Linked DNA regions of Homo sapiens: region 2 is linked to region 1. Evidence: fine-mapped expression QTL. Tissue or cell type: spleen. Region 1 holds a variant in brackets; the other region holds the start of a gene. All regions are shown on one strand. Distances are from middle to middle.

The links. PIP is the estimated chance that this variant, and not a neighbour inherited with it, causes the effect.
Region 2: PON2 starts here. The variant in region 1 is fine-mapped to the expression of PON2 in spleen (GTEx, PIP 0.97).

Annotation. Positions count from the first base shown.
Region 1 is chr7:95,705,933-95,714,043 of GRCh38, forward strand. All of the region lies in intron 2 of LOC105375409 (a long non-coding RNA gene), which reads left to right. Among named protein-coding and RNA genes, the nearest start is that of DYNC1I1, 63 kb to the right of the region's middle. The variant G/A (reference allele first, on the strand shown) is at 4,773.
Region 2 is chr7:95,430,119-95,438,229 of GRCh38, forward strand. It overlaps PON2 (paraoxonase 2), which reads right to left and starts at 4,910. Exons shown (of 9, transcript NM_000305.3): 1 at 4,760-4,910. The coding sequence starts at 4,833. RefSeq lists a silencer at 4,593-5,022 and an enhancer at 4,697-5,267.

The sequences.
Region 1 (8,111 bases):
AGCCTCAGCCCTCTGGAAACATGCAAAAAGAAAGTCTACTGACTGTACTCAATTTATACCACAGTTAAAGGAGCATGCACACACAGACATGAGAAAGAACCAGCACAAGAACTCTGGCAAGTCAAATGCCCAGAGTGTCTTCTGTTCTCCAAACAAGCACACTAGTTCTCCAACAAGGGTTCTTAACCAGGCTGGGATGGTTGAAATGACAGAAATAGAATCCCAAATATAGATAGGAGTGAAGATCATTGAGATTCAGTAGAACTTTGAAACCAAATTCAAGAAAGCTAAGAATGAAAATAAAATAATATGGGAGCTAACAGATTAAACAGCCAGTATAAAAAAGAACCTATATGACCTGATAGAGCTAAAAAATACACCATAAGAATTTCATAATATTGAGAAGTGAAGCCAGCTGGACTTCCTTGGTAGAGTGGGGACTTGGAGAACTTTTCTGTCTAGCAAGAGGATTGTAAAACACACCAATCAGCACTCAGTAGCTAGGATTGTAAAATGCACCAATCAGTGCTCTGTAGCTAGCAAGGGGATTGTAAAATGCACCAATCAGTGCTCTGTAAAAACACACCAATCAGCGCTCTGTAGTTAGCAAGAGGATTGTAAAATGCACCAATCAGCGCTCTGTAAAATGCACCAATCAGCACTCTGTAAAATGCACCAATCAGCAGGATCCCAAAAGTAGCCAATCGCAGGGAGGATTGAAAAAAGGGCATTCTAATAGGGCAGAAACAGAACATGGGAGCAGACAAATAAGGGAATAAAAGCTGGCCACCCCAGCCAGAAGTAGCAACCCATTCAGGTCCCCTTCCACACTGTGGAAGCTTTGTTCTTTTGCTCTTCACAATAAACCTTGCTACTGCCCATTCTTTGGGTCCGTGCCATCTTGAAGGGCTGTAACACTCACCGCGAAGGTCCGCGGCTTCATTTTTGAAGTCAGCAAGACCACAAACCCACCAGAAGGAACCAACTCCAGACACAATATTATCACAAGTATTAACAGTAGAATAGACCAAGCTGAGGAAAGAATCTCAGAACTTGAAGACTGGCTCTCTAAAATAAGACAATCAGATAATTAAAAAAAAAAAAAGAAGGAAAATGAATGAACAAAACCTCCATGAAGTATGGGATTATGTAGAGGCTAAATCTATAGACCATTAGTGCTCCTAAAAGAGAGGGGGAGAAAGCAAGCAATTTGGAAAACACATTTCAGGATGTTATCCATGAAAACTTCCCCAGCCTCACTAGAGAATCCAACATCCAAATTCAGGAAATAAAGAGAACCCTTGCAAGATACTACACAAAAATTTCATACCCAAGACGTATAATTATTTAATCGTCAGGTTTTCCAAGATTGCAATGAAAGAAAAAATATTAAAGGCTGCTAGAGAGACAGGGCAGTTCTCCTAAGGGAATTCCTAAGGGAATTCCATCAGGCTAAAAAGTCCATAGAAGTCTAAAAGTCTATAGCAGATGTTTCAGCAGAAACCCTACTAGCCAGAGGGGATGAGGGGCCCACATTCAACAACAACAAAAAAATTTCCAACCAAGAATTTCATATCCATGCTTCAAAAGTGGAGGAGAAAAAGGATCCTTCTCAGAGAAGCAAATGCTGAGAGATTCATGACGACCAGACCTGCCTTACAAGAGCTCCTGAAAGAAGCACTAAATATAGAAAGGAAAGAACATTTCCAGCCACAACAAGAACACACTGAAGTACATACACAGACCAGTGACACTATAAAGCAACCACACAAATAAGTCTGTGTAACAACAACCTAACAATACAATGACAGTTTCAAATCCACACACATCAACAGTAACTTGAATGTAAATAGACGAAATTTCCCAATTAAAAGGCACAGAGTGACAAGATGGATAAAGAAGCAAGACCCAATGGTATGCTGTTATCAAGACCCATCTCACATGCAATGACACTCATAGATTCAAAATAAAGGGTTGAAGAAAAATCTACCAAGCAAATAGAGAACAGAAAAAAGCAGGGGTTGCAACCCTAATTCCAGACAAAACAGACTTTGATTTAACCAACAAAGATAAAAAGAGACAAAGAAGGTCATTATATAATGGTAAAGGGTTCAATTCAACAAGATCTAACTATCCTAAATATATGTACCCAACACAGGAGCACCCAGATTCATAAAGCAAGTTCTTAGAGATCTTCAAAGACACTTAGACTCCCACACAATAATAGTGGGAGTCTTCAAAATCCCACTGGCAGTATTAGACAGGGAGAAAATTAACAAATATATTCAGAACCTGAACTCAAGTCTTGATCAAATGAACCTAATAGACATTGACAGAACTCTCCATCCAAAAACAATGGATTATGCATTCTTCTCATTGCCATATGGCAATGTAAATTATTGCCATACTGCTATGTAAATTAGTCCAACCATTGTTGGAAGCAGTGTGGTCATCCCTCAAAAAAATAAAAAGAGAACTAGCATTAAACCCAGCAATCCTATTACTGGGTATATACCCAAATGAATATAAATTGCTCTACCATAAGGACACATGCACACATATGTTCATTGCAGCACTATTCACAATAGCAAAGACATGAAATCAAACTAAATGCCCACCAATGATAGACTGGATAAAGAAAATGTGGTAAATATACACCTTGAAATACTGTGAAGCCATATAAAATAATGAAATCATGTCCTTTGCAGGAACATAGATGGAGCTGGAGGCCATTATCCTTACCTAACCAACCCAGGAACAGAAAACCAAATACCATATGTTCTCACTTATAAGTGGGAGCTAACTAATGAGAACTAATGGCCACAGCGAGGGGAAAAACAGACACTAAGACCTACTTGAGGGAGGAGGGAGAGGTTCAGAAACAAACAAACAAACAAACATTCAGGCTCTCTGCTCAGTACCCGGGTGACAATATGGTCTGTGCACCAAACCCACATAATACAAATTTGTCTGTAATAAGAAATCTGCACATGTACCCCTGAACCTAAAATAAAAGTTAAATGAATAAATAAAGTATCTCTTTCTTCAACTACTTCCTTTCTGTAATTCTTTCCCTAACCTCAAGTTGCAAAGAGAGAAGTGCTGACTAGTTACTACAAATCATGAATGGAAGCCTAGACCCATCACACCCCACTGTCTCTACATACACTTAACTGGCTGAGACTATAAGGAGTACCCAACCACTTATTACTACCAGATGAGGACGAAGTCAGAGCTCTGCTCACAGTGTCCATGTTTCCTGCAGTGCCTGGTATGTGAGAAGGGGCATTTTTCTTTTTGTACTGTGTTTGGCTGGAATAGGATGGGTACTGCTCAAAGAGTACTCTCCTATTGGCCCACTCCTTTTCACGTCCTTTGGCTAGAGAAAGTAGGATTTTTCTGGAGCTTCTTGGCCTGTGCCTATTGGCATTTCCAAGTTGTGTTCTTCTCTAGTGATCAAGATGGGGTATATGAGAGACAAAAAACAAAACAAAACAAAAACCAGAAAAAGGGAACAGACCACTGTCATTTTTCAAGTTCCAAAATTCCTAGGCAGTACACCTTCTTTTCTCTCATGTAAGAGTCTTCCAGTGTTTTATGCATTTTGTCCAGGATTTTAACATTCAGATAGTGGAAGAAATACAGTGAAATGTGTCTACTTCATCGTGATTGAACGGCTGAACCAAGATAAAAGCAAATCTTAACAGAATACAGATTTTTTAAAGACACATTACATACAACGATAAAAAATATAGAAATTACACCAGATGAATTATCAGAAATATGCAAGCCAGAAAACAATGGAGTGACATCATTAAAATGTTGAGAAAGAAACATACCTGTCAATTTAAAAATCCTAAGCCCAGCAAAAATCTCAAAAATGAATGAGAAATGATGACCTTTTATTTCAGCAAAACAAAAATTGAGGGAATTTATTAACAGCGGCACAGCATGATGAGAAATGATGAAGAAAATCGCCGGGCACGTGGCTCACACCTGCACTTTGGGAGGCCGAGGCGGGTGGATCACAAGGTCAAGAGATTGAGACCATCCTGGCCAACATGGTGAAATCCCGTCTCTACTAAAAATACAAAAATTAGCCAGGTGTGGTGGTGGGTGCCTGTAGTCCCAGCTACTCGGGAGGCTGAGGCAGGAGAATTGCTTGAACCCGGGAGGCAGAGGTTGCAGTGAGCTGAGATTGTGCCCCTGCACTGCAGCCTGATGACAGAGTAAGAATCCATCTAAAAAAAAATGATGAAGAAAATCTTCAGGCAGAAGGAATATGTTAGCTAGCAGAAAACTGGGTTTACACAAAGAAGTGAACAACTCCATTAATGTATAAAATAAGGATAAATATAAAAGATATCTTTAATTTTATTTTAATTGCTCTAAAAGATTGTTATTCATCTATAAACAAATATAGTAGCAATGCGAGTTTATAGGATATATAAAATAAAATAAAAATTTCTGGTTTCAACTCCAATATGTAGAGAACTTAGAAGTTACCACTACTCCCCTTACAAGAACAAAATAAGTGAATAAATTGAAAACCACTGATTTTTATTGAATCCATCAGAGAACCTCTTTGTAGGGCATACTGCCACACCAACATCTGGAGAGACAGGTGAATGCAGAGAATCACAGATGAGATGAATTTACCTAGAACAGGAACTACTTGAGCTGCAAACTGATAAGAACACTTATATGGTAACTTTGATGAATTGCTGAAGGCAGAATGTAGATTAGCATGAGAGTGATGGATTTTGGGGGGT[G/A]ACAGAGTATTGGGGATCCTCCACATTTTCATAGGTTTTGTTTCCAGGAATCCCATCAGTTTCTCACAGTGATAAGCCAAGAAAGAGCTCTCACATTTCTAGAAGTGGGAGGGAAAATGTAACCATTTTGAGATATGCCCAGAGCATTCTCCATAACAAAGTCTTATTCACCAGGGGAAAAGACTTTATTAGAGCCTATTCAGCTTGGAGGAAATTACCCAACTCCAGTCCTCTCTAGCCCTCTTGTCTCATGTGAGGGAGGAAAATGGGTTATAGCCCAGAGACACAGGTTCATTAAAGACTGAAATTTAATCATAGGATTATAGAATGTGTTTCTTCCTTCCACACTTCACTACCACATCAATGGGATTCCACTATAACAGTGGATCACAGCTGAAGAAGCTTTAAATGGAAACCCAAAGACAACAATGGAAAAAGAACAACAACACAAAAAGGACTCTAAAGGAAATTGAAACCATGTACAGGAAACATTAAACATAGCCAACACCTAGCCAGATTAGCATAAACTCTCATAACAAAGGCCTTTTTACCTTAGTTCCTATTAATTGATACATCTTGTCTGGATTTTTTTTTAACTTGCAAGTAATGCTTAATGGCCAGAAACAAACATAATCTGAAGAAACAAAGTAAGCATAAGACCGGACTCAGATATGTCACAGAATTTAGAATTATCAGAGAATTTAATATCACTATGATTAATATATGAATGAATCTAATGGAAGAAAGACAAAATTTAAGAGTAAATAGATAATATAAGCAGAGACAGGTAATCTAAAAAAGAATCAAATGGAAATGCAATAAATAAATTTAAAAAACACTGCAACAGAAATACAGAATGCCTGTTATGAGCTCACCAGTAGACTGGATATGGCCAAGAAAAGAATCAGTGAACTTGAAGATATGCCAATACAACTTCCCAAGCAGAAAGGCAAAGAGAAAAAATAACAATAATTAAAAAAAAACCAGAACAACTCATCCAAGAAATGTGAGACAACTTCAAAAGGCATGATACATGCATAACTGGAATACCAGAAGGAAAAGAAAATAAGAACCAAGCAGAATAAATATTTGAAGTAATAATGACTGAGAATTTTCCAAAATTAGTGTCAGGCATCAAATCACAGATTCAGGAAGTTCAAAGAACACAAAACAGTATAAATACCAAAAATCTTTACCTAGGAATATCATGTTAAAACTACAGGAAACCAAAGACAAGGAGAAGATCTTGAAGAAAGCCAGAGAAGGAAAATACAACTTACCTAAAAAGAAACAATGATGAAAATTACATCAGACTTCCCATCAGAAACTATGCAAGCAAGAAGAAAGTGGAGTGAAATATTTAAAGTGTTGAAAGAAAAATCTTCACTAATATACCATTATATCTGGCAAAATTATCTTTCAAAAGTGAAAGAGAAATAAAAACATTCTCATACAAATAAAAACTGGGGAAATTAATCAACAGCAGACTTTCCCTGCAAGAAATGTTTTTAAAAAGTAGTTCAGAGAGAAGGAAAATGATATAGGAAAAAAACTTTAATCTACATGAAGAAAGAAAGAGCATTGAAGAAGAAATAAATGAATTGATCAAATAAATAGCTATTGTAAATAAATTAATCAAATAAATAACTGTTTAAACTGAAAATAGTAACAATTACTGTGTGACTATAGTATATGGATACATGAAATGAATGACAGCAATTTTTTAAGGGATGAATGGGAACAGAAAAAGAGGAAAATAAAAAAGAAACAAAGAACAAATGTAATGAACAGACAGTAGTTACAAACACAGTGGATATTAATACAACTATATAGCTCATCACTTTAAATGTGGTTTAAATAAACCAATTAAAAGTCAAAAATTGTTGGAGTGGACAAAACAAACAAACAAATAAGACCCAATCATACGTTCTCTAAAAGTTTCCCAATTTAAATACAAAGACAGGGTTGGACATGGTGACTCACATCAGTAATGCCAGCAGAAAATGTAATCCAAATTGTCCTATACCGATTAAAGTAATTAAATTTCTTTTTAAAAATCTTTGAACAAAGTAAACTTCACACAGCGATGACTTTAATTGCAAATTCTACTACACATTTAAGGAACAAATAAAACCAGTTCTACAGAAACTCAGAAAAACAAAAAAAGAGACACTTAACAAACTCATTTTATTAGTTGAGCATTACACTGATTAAAAAAATACGTTTGAAAAACTTAAAAAAACTATAAAACAATATCCCTCATGAATATAGATATAAATTCTTGTCCTAAAATATTACCTAACTGAATCTATCAATATATAAAAAGGCCAATATATTATAATGAATTAGGGTCTATATCAGGAATGCTGGTTCAAATTTTCAACTTAAAAAATTTCATTTTGTTTCCAATTGGAAAAAATCTTCAATTTTTAAAACAAAAATCAATTAATGTAATTAAACTTATCAACTGATTAAACAAGAAACAAAACTTGGTTATCTTCATAGCTACAAAAACATTTAACAAAATGCATTATCTATCAATAATAGAAACTTCCAACAAATTAAAAATTAAAAGAAACTTTCTTAAACTGATTAAAATCATCTATTACAAAACTCTACAGCTAACATCATACTTAATAAAGTGAAAGAATCAATGCTTTACATCTGCTAGTGGGAGAATAAATAAGGATATTCACTGTCACTATTAATCATTGTACTGAAGATTCTATCCAGTACAAGATGATAAAAAAAAGAAGCAAAAACCACACAGATTAAAAATGAAAAACGAAAACTGTCTCTATTATCAGACAATATGGAAAATCTACACATTCACTACTAGAACTAATATGTCAGTTTAGCAAGGTGGCAAGGTATGGATCAATACACAAAAATCTGTTCTATTTATGCATACCTTCAATGAACAGTTAAAAATTGAACTTCACAAAAAGAGTGTAATTTATAGTACCATCAATAACATGAAATACATAGGTATAAATCTAACAAAATAGGTGGTGGGTTTGTGTGCTAAAAACTACAAAACACTGATGAAAGAAATCAAAAGGGAACTAAATAAATAGATATATAGTGTTCGTGAATTAGAGGACTCAGTGTCATTAAGATGTAAATACACTCCTAATTTATCTATAGATTCAAGACAATGCCAATCAAAATCCCACCAAATTGTCTTTTTTTTTTGCATAGAAATTCACAAGCTGATCTAAAATTTATATGGAAAACAATGGATCTAGAATAGCCAAAACATTTTTGAATAAGAACTAAATTCAGAAGATTCACACTATCTGATTTCAAGACTTATAAAACTCTAGTGATCAACAGAAT
Region 2 (8,111 bases), 280 kb before region 1:
AAGTAAAAGAGCTTTCTTTCCAAATATCAGTAAATGTACGTTTTGGTTTAATATAAAGAAATTTGGCAGGGCTCAGTAGCTCATACCCATAATCCCAGTGCTTTGGGAAGTTGATGCGGTAGGATCACTTATGGCTAGAAGTTTGAGATCAGCCTGGGCAACACAGCAAGACCCCCATCTCTACAAAAAAATTTTTTTGTTTTTTTTTTTTTGAGACAGAGTCTCGCTCTGTTGCCAGGCTGGAGTGCAATGGCTCACTGCAACCTCCGCCTCCCGGGTTCAAGTGATTCTCCTGCCTCAGCCTCCTGAGTAGCTGGGATTACAGGCATGTGCCACCGTGCCTGGCTAATTTTGTATTTTTAGTAGAGATGGGGTTTCACCATGTTGGTCAGGCTGGTCTTGAACTCCCGACCTCAGGTATCCACCCGCCTCAGCCTCCCAAAGTGCTGGGATTATAGTAATGAGCCACCGTGCCCGGCCATGTTTTTTTAATTAGCCAGGTGTAGTGGTGCATGCCTATAGTCCTCACTGCTTAGGAGGCTGAGGTGGGAGGATTGCTTGAGCCCAGGTGTTCTGGGTTACAATGAGCTATGATTGTGCTGCTGCACTCCAGCCTGGGTGACAGAGCAAGAACCTGCCTTGAAGAAAAAAGAAAAAAAGAAAGAAAATATTTTTTAAAAGATAGATTAAAAAAATAAATAAAGAAGTTTTTACACTTTTGACACACTGACTGACCAGCACACAAGAGTTACATAATAAATGATTTAAAGGATGGTGGTTTAAAAAAAAAAAAAAGGGAAAAAGGCTGCTCTTTCAGAAGTAGAAACAGACCACATAGCTTCTTGTGGGAATTGTCATAAAAGGTGCGAGGCAGCAAGCAGAACATTCACATGGGTACTCTGGGGGTTCCTGCCCACGCTTAGGTCTCTGATGCACTCAAGCCTCATGATTCATCCATGGCTGTGTACCTTGACACCAGGAACTGGCCTGGGAATATTTGTATACTGTTATTTTCCCCTTTATTGCTCAACTAGGGAGGGGTGGAAAAGGAGGGTGTGGAATCCCAGTTACAGTTCAGAAGAAGAAAGACAACTTTGATGGCATTTATCCCTCTGGGACATCCTTATACTAAAAATTGAAGTGGGCAACCTGGGGAGAGAAATAACTTGATTGCCAAAGTACCATCTCTAAATATTGAATAATCAAACAGTAGGCATCAGATTAAAGCAAAAATCAAACATAAAGCCTCTGTTCCTTCAACTTCCTCTGAAGAGCCTTTCCTTATGGGGAGGTGGGAACATGCTTTTTTTCTTTTTTTTTTGAGGGAGTCTTTCTCTGTTGTCCAGGCTGGAGTCCAGTGGCTCAATCTTGGCTCACTGCAACCTCTACCTCTGGGGTTCAAGCAATTCTCCTGACTCAGCCTCCCAAGTAGCTGGGATTACAGGGATGCACCACCACACCTGGCTAATTTTTGTATTTTTATTAGAGACGGGGTTTCACCATGTTGGCCAGGCTGGTCTTGAACCCCTGACCTCTAGTGATCTGCCCGCCTCAGCCTCCCAAAGTGCTGGGATTACAGACGTGAGCCACTGTGTCCGGCCAAACATGCTCCTTTTTAAAACAGACTCAAAGGGTCACCAAATTCTGACAGAAGGCACTCGAACATATGATAAAATACAGGGTACCCAGTGATATTTTAATTTGAGATAAACAATGAATGATATTTTAGTATAATTATGTCCCAAATTCCACGCTTAATGCTAAAAGTATGGTATAAGTATTTCATGCTTATACTAAAAAAAAAAAAAAAAATCCATGTGAAATTCAAAGTTAACTGGGTAGCCTACATTTTTCTTTGCTAAATCCAGCCACCCACCACCTACCCCAACATTCTCACGTCAGCCCATTTGGGGCTCCACATATCCAATAAAGTTACCATTTTATAAAGTCACTGCCCATTAAAGTGCATCACAGTCACGTAAAGAAAAGGTGCATCAAATTGTAAAGTAGGCCGAGGGTGGTGGCTCATGTGTATAATCCTACCACTTTGGGAGGCTGAGGCAGGAGCATCACTTGAGGCTGGGAGTTTGAGATTAGCCTGGGCAACAAAGTGAGACCCTGTCTCTGCAAGAAATAAAAATACTAGCTGGGCATGGTAGCATGCATCTGTAGTCCCAGCTACTCAGGAGGCTGAGGAGGGAGGACTGCTTGTGCCTAGGTGTTTGAGATTGCAGTGAGCTTTGATGTACCACTGTACTCTGGCTTGGGCGGCAGAGCAAGACCTTGTGTCAAAATAAAAAACAAAGAAAAACAAAAAACAAACAAACAAAAACCTGTAAATAAACTATCAGGCATTCTGTCAATAAGTTTTATTTACTTTTTCTTTTTTTTTTAGATTTGCAGCTATAACTTTAAAACCTTAAGATTAGTGAGAAGGGGGAATATTTGACTGTTGAGAAAACTTCCAACTTGCAGAAAAACTGGTGGCTTACACATTAGTGACAACATAATAAGCTTGTGAATTTTGGTGGTCTTGCCTTTGAAATGGAGAGCAGGACAGATCATATACAAAGTCATCCAACTCATGAATGTTCTGTAGAGCACAATGGGCATTACCTAACATGAAAATTAAGGTCAACATGTCCATTTCCTACCCATAAGCGTTCTTTCCTCAAATCTCACTCCCATCTCAGCCACCACACGCTTCCTCTTTGCACTGCTTTATCAGTAGATGAAACTACAACCATGGGACAGTGGAGCTGTGGCACAAACTCTGGTAGCACCTTTGACTTCTCCCTCATCCCTGGGGTTCCAGAGTTTGGGTCCCTGTTATCCTCTCTGACCTACTGCAATACCTTAACCAGTTACCCCATGTCTGCTCTCTATTCTAGTAGTTCTCGACCTTGACTGCTCATTAGAATTATCAGGAATGTTTTTAAAAATAAAAAATGCCACTGCTACTGTCAGCCACTGTTCTTACATTATGCACTTCCTTATTTATCTATTTACCTGGGAACCCTGAAGCCAGCTTGCCAAACAATACATTATTCCATATCACATTTTAATTATAACGAAAAATCTCTGGTAGGTAGACACCATAGTTTATAAATTACCAACTCAAATTTTGTTTTTTATTTATTTATTTATTTATTTATTCATTTTGTAGAGGTGGGATCTTGCTATGTTGCCCAGGCCTGTCACTAACTCCTGGGCTCAAGCAATCTTCTGGCTTAGGCCTCCAACAGTGCTGGGATTACAGGTGTGAGCTGTAGATTCTGATCCAGAACAGCTGAATCAGAATCTTTGGTGGTGCCACTCAGACACCAGCCCTCCAGGAGATTCTAATGTACAGAGAACCATTGCTCTCCTCCAATCCCCCCTTCCAGGCTTATCTCTATAAAACACAACTAGTTATATTAAGTTCTTGTTGAAAAGCAAAACCCACCAATATTTCCCTTTTGAAGCACTATTGGGCCTATGAAAGTGGGGCCCCATTTTTCAACTTATATTTAATGGCCTCAAAACCTATCCTTCCCACCACCCTACTATTCTCATCTCCTGACTTTATGCTCCCTTCAAATTGGCCCATTTGCTAGTCTTCCAACTTCCCACCTTAGCCCCTTTGCTCCTGCTGCACTATACATTTGGCATGGGCCCCTTCATGCTCATATGTGTTGCACCCACCCTTCAAGGTCAGGTCGAATGTCTCTTCCTCCCTCTAGAACTCCACCCTCAGGGGATGGAATCTTTCCTCTTTAAGCCTATGCGGTTCATTTGTGTCTGTCCTTAGAACATCCTAATTTATACATTTACTGTATTTTAATTCTCTCTTCCCCTGTATCAAACTCCATAAGGGTCGTACTCTACTATAGAAGCCTAAGAGAGAACATTACACATAGCAGGTGCTCAGTCTTTCTGGAACTCTTTTGCATGAGGCCTATAAAATTTTGGTTGAGGCAGGGCAGAACAGCTCACACCTGTAATCCCAGCACTGTGGGGAGGCCTAGGCTGGAGGATTGCTTGAGTGCAAGAGTTAGGGAACAGCCTGGGCAATACAGCAAGACCCCATCTCTACAAAAAATAAAATAAACAAAAAACAAACGTTGAGTTGGTAATTTATAAACGATGATGTCTACCTACCAGAGATTTTCATTAAAACTAAAATGCGAGATGGAATAGTGTCTGCGCTGTCTGGCATTCTGGCTTCAGGCTTCCCTGGTGAATAAATAGGAAGTAAGAACAGTAGCTGAATATTTCAAGTGTCTTTGATCTACAGCTGAAGAGTTTCTCAAACTATGCAGAAATGGGTGGAGAACAACTTTATTAAAGACGGGTCTGGTTTGGGCAACAAGGAGAAACAGCACCAATGACCTGAAATAAATCTTCATAGTTAAGGTTTCAATGCATGAGTAGTCATTTTGTTTTCAATTTAAACCACTAGTTTGGCCCTTGGGTAATTGCAAAGCATTCTCTTGTCAGCCTAAGCAGAAGAGAACTTTGTTAGCAGCAAGGGCTTATAAACTTTCAAGAAAGTGTCGCGATTCACTCCAAACTTTGCTAGTTTTTTCACTAGAAGCGGAGAGTCGGGGTGATGGGGGTTCAACTAGCTGGGGGAGGGACAGCATTCAAAAATTCTCCACCCCCGGCCGCAGGGCCAGGTCCCGCAGGAATCCCTCCCCCAGCCTGCGCCCTCCCCGCACCACGCGGCCACCCCGAGCCTGGGGACCGCCGAGGAGGGGCGCGCGGGAGTCCCACCTACCTGAGTGCCAGAAGCCTCTCGCCCAGGAGCGCCAGCGCGATCCCCAGCAAGCCCACAGCCACCAGCCGCCCCATGGCGCGGGAGCCGGGCGCGCTGCCTCGCTCCGGCCTGGCCAGCAGCTCCGTGGGCGGTGCCATCTTCCCGGCTCGATGGTGCCGGCCGCGCTCCGCCCCGTCCTCCGCCTAGGCCGAGTCCCTGCGTCGGGGCCGCGGAGGCTCCGCCCTGGGCCTGGCCCTGGTCTTTGTCCTCACAAACCTATTTCCCCAGATACCTTCGGGACGGCCCGGACACGCCTTACATTAGGCTCATGATGTGAAACTTTGAATTCCTTCACTTCCTTTTTCAAACAACCCACCCGAAACCCTCTAGCAGCCCGCATACCTTTCTCGTTTCCCTAGTCTTCAAACACATTTCTCACTCGCTATTCCAGTGAGAAACTTACATAGAAAGCAGCTTTTGGGGATGGGGGTCGGTGGCCAAGGGAGGGAAAGTAACGGGATGCGTCGTGTAAATATTTCACGTTGGAATCACTACTTTTTATAACAGGACGTAGTTGCGAATAAATAAACATCCTGTGCCTCGTAATACTTTTTTTTTTTTTTTTTAACAGGGTCTCGCTGTGTTGCCTAGGCTGGAGTACATTGGCACAATCATAGCTCACTGCAGTCTGGACCTCCCGGACTCAAGGGACCCTCCAGCCTCAGCCTCCTGAGTAGCTGGGACCGCAGGCACGTACCGTTACACCTAGCTAAGTGTGTGTAAGTTGTGTGTGTGTCTGTGTGTGTGTGTGTGGAGACCGAGTCTTGCTGTGTTGCCCAGGTTGGTCTCAAACTCCTGGACTCAAGCCATCCTCCTGCCTCAGCCTCCCAAAGTGCTAGAATTACAGGAATGAGCCACCATGCCCAGCCTCTATTAATACTTCCAGACTACAGACTTAAGGACTTAGACACGTCTTTTTCATCCAAACTCAAAGGGAAGAAGTGTAGTTTTTTTCTTTTCCGTTTTTACTCTAACAACCGTAACATGAAGGAATAATTTAAAATACAATTTTAAAAGTAAAATGAAATTTACCCATCAAGATTGATACCATTACAATAAATGAGTACATCTGAAATAAGCTTCTAATGGTTTTCGGTATTTAATTGCCACCCTACAATATGTAGGCAGAAATGGTCACACTTGACAATTTTCAACAAATATCAGTTTTATAAAGAACCAGTAAATAAAAGTGGATGCCAATTTCCCACCTGCCTCTCACCAAAAAAAAAAAAAAAAAAAAAAAGCACAAACACCTCTCTCCCTGTGTGTGTGTGTATCTCTGCTTCAGTCCTAAGGATATTGGATTATACTGGATGGTAGAAAGAGAAGTAAAAAGTTGTCCTTTGAAAGCCCATGAGGCATTACCTTTTTTGTGTCGTGGACCCTTCTGGCAGTGGTGAGCCTGTGGATAACTTCTTAGAATAATGTTTATAAATGCTTACAATAAAATGCATAAATTTTCTCTGTGCGGTTCATGAAAAAAAGAAAGAAGAAAAAAAAATTTTAAATAAATGAATAAAATGTATAGATTGCAAAGAAAATCAATTACATTGTAAGGAAAAAAAATAGCTGAGAGCAGTCTGAGCTTTGTGAGGTATGCAAAATTTATCAGGCCCAGAGCGACATGAGTATGGGACTTCAGTCACGCCCCAATACCCATGCCTGGGGACAGTTGTTTAAAGACATTTTGTTCCCGAGTAGCTGTCCCACCCATTATCTTCATATTCCTGGAATTTATGATACAAAGAACAAAGTATAACCAATCCACAGCTTATGTTATTTTAACGCAAGGAATTTAGGAACTGCCTCTTCCTTCCCCTTAAAAATCTATGTGTAACTGCTGCTAATCAGAGTGTATATTTAGGGAAACTTGAATCTATACTCCTGGGTTGCAGTACTCAAACTTGGCCCAAATAAACTCTCTACTTACATTAATTTTGCCTTAGCTTTAAAATTAAAGGTCAACAATTGAAATGTAATTGTTAAAATATCTAAAACATAATTTTTTGCTATAGTAATGTGGTAATGTAATGTGTGCAACATTATTTAACATATTAAATAACAAGATCTAGCAACATTCTTTTAAATAAAGAGGAGTGCAAATGTTCTTTCATGATACTGAAAACAACTATAATGAAATAATGAAAATAACTGTTATTTCCATTAGTAACAGTCACAAGTACTGCAAATGCTTCTGAGGTTTGTCTGCTAGTTTTGTAATTGAAGAAAATGCTAAATTCCATTTGAAATCAAGATTTTTTTTTTCTTATCCAAGGTCATTAATTCCTCTGAACTATCAATGGACCACTGGGTTAAGAACTCTGACATAGGCTAAGGCTATGACTGTTTAGAGAAGGGTGGAATCTCCTTTCTAGGACTATTTTTGGTGTCAATTATTGAGGAAGAGAAGAGCCTCAGATACAAAATCAGAATTTAGGCCTGGCAAGGTAGCTCTTGCCTATAATCTCAGCACTTTGAAAGGCCCAGGTGGGAGGATCACTTGAAGCGGGGAGTTCAAGACCATTGTGGGCAACATAGGGAGAACCCATCTCTACAAAAAAAAAATTAAAATTAACAAAAAAAAAAAATTAAAGAATCAGAATTTAGAAGAAAGACCTAAAGCAGAGGGCCTTGGACTATTGTCTGGGCTTCTCTCTTAATCTCTTAGGCCCCAAGGGAAGTACATACAACTATGCCTCATGGATTCTGGGTCAGGAGCCAGGCTACCGTGTCTTTCCACAAGTTCCGCAAAATGAGGAAACCACATAGATGGCAAATAAGAATATCCAAGTATATGCTATTCTCTGTCTATTTCCCTTTTGCTATTCCCAATTTTTTAAAAAGAAAAAAGTCATGTTCTTAATAGTCATGTTCTTCAACCTGGTTCCAGGTGACATTAAAGGGTTGGAGGTCTACATCTTTTAGGCTAGTCTCAGGATAGCAAAAACAACAACAACAACCAAAACCAGCTTTTGTGCTGACTTTCCTTTCTTCCCTGGCCCATGGTAGGCGTCACTAATTGATTTTGGCAAAGTGTCTCATCACACCCAGACTTGTCCTCACAATTTTTTAAAACAACAACGAAAGGGAAATAAGAATCCCTGAGCTAGGGAACAGATTTCAGTTCAGGATGAAACCTGTTTGCCATCTTGGTGCTGGGTGGTCAGGAGGAACAACACCTTGGGATTTAGCATGGAAGCATTTGTGATAATGAGCCAGGACTTTCAAGTCCACCAAAACCTACCTAAGCTCACCCTCAGAGAATCAAGAGAAATGGAAACCTTATTTTAACTTTATTAACATGACCAGTGAG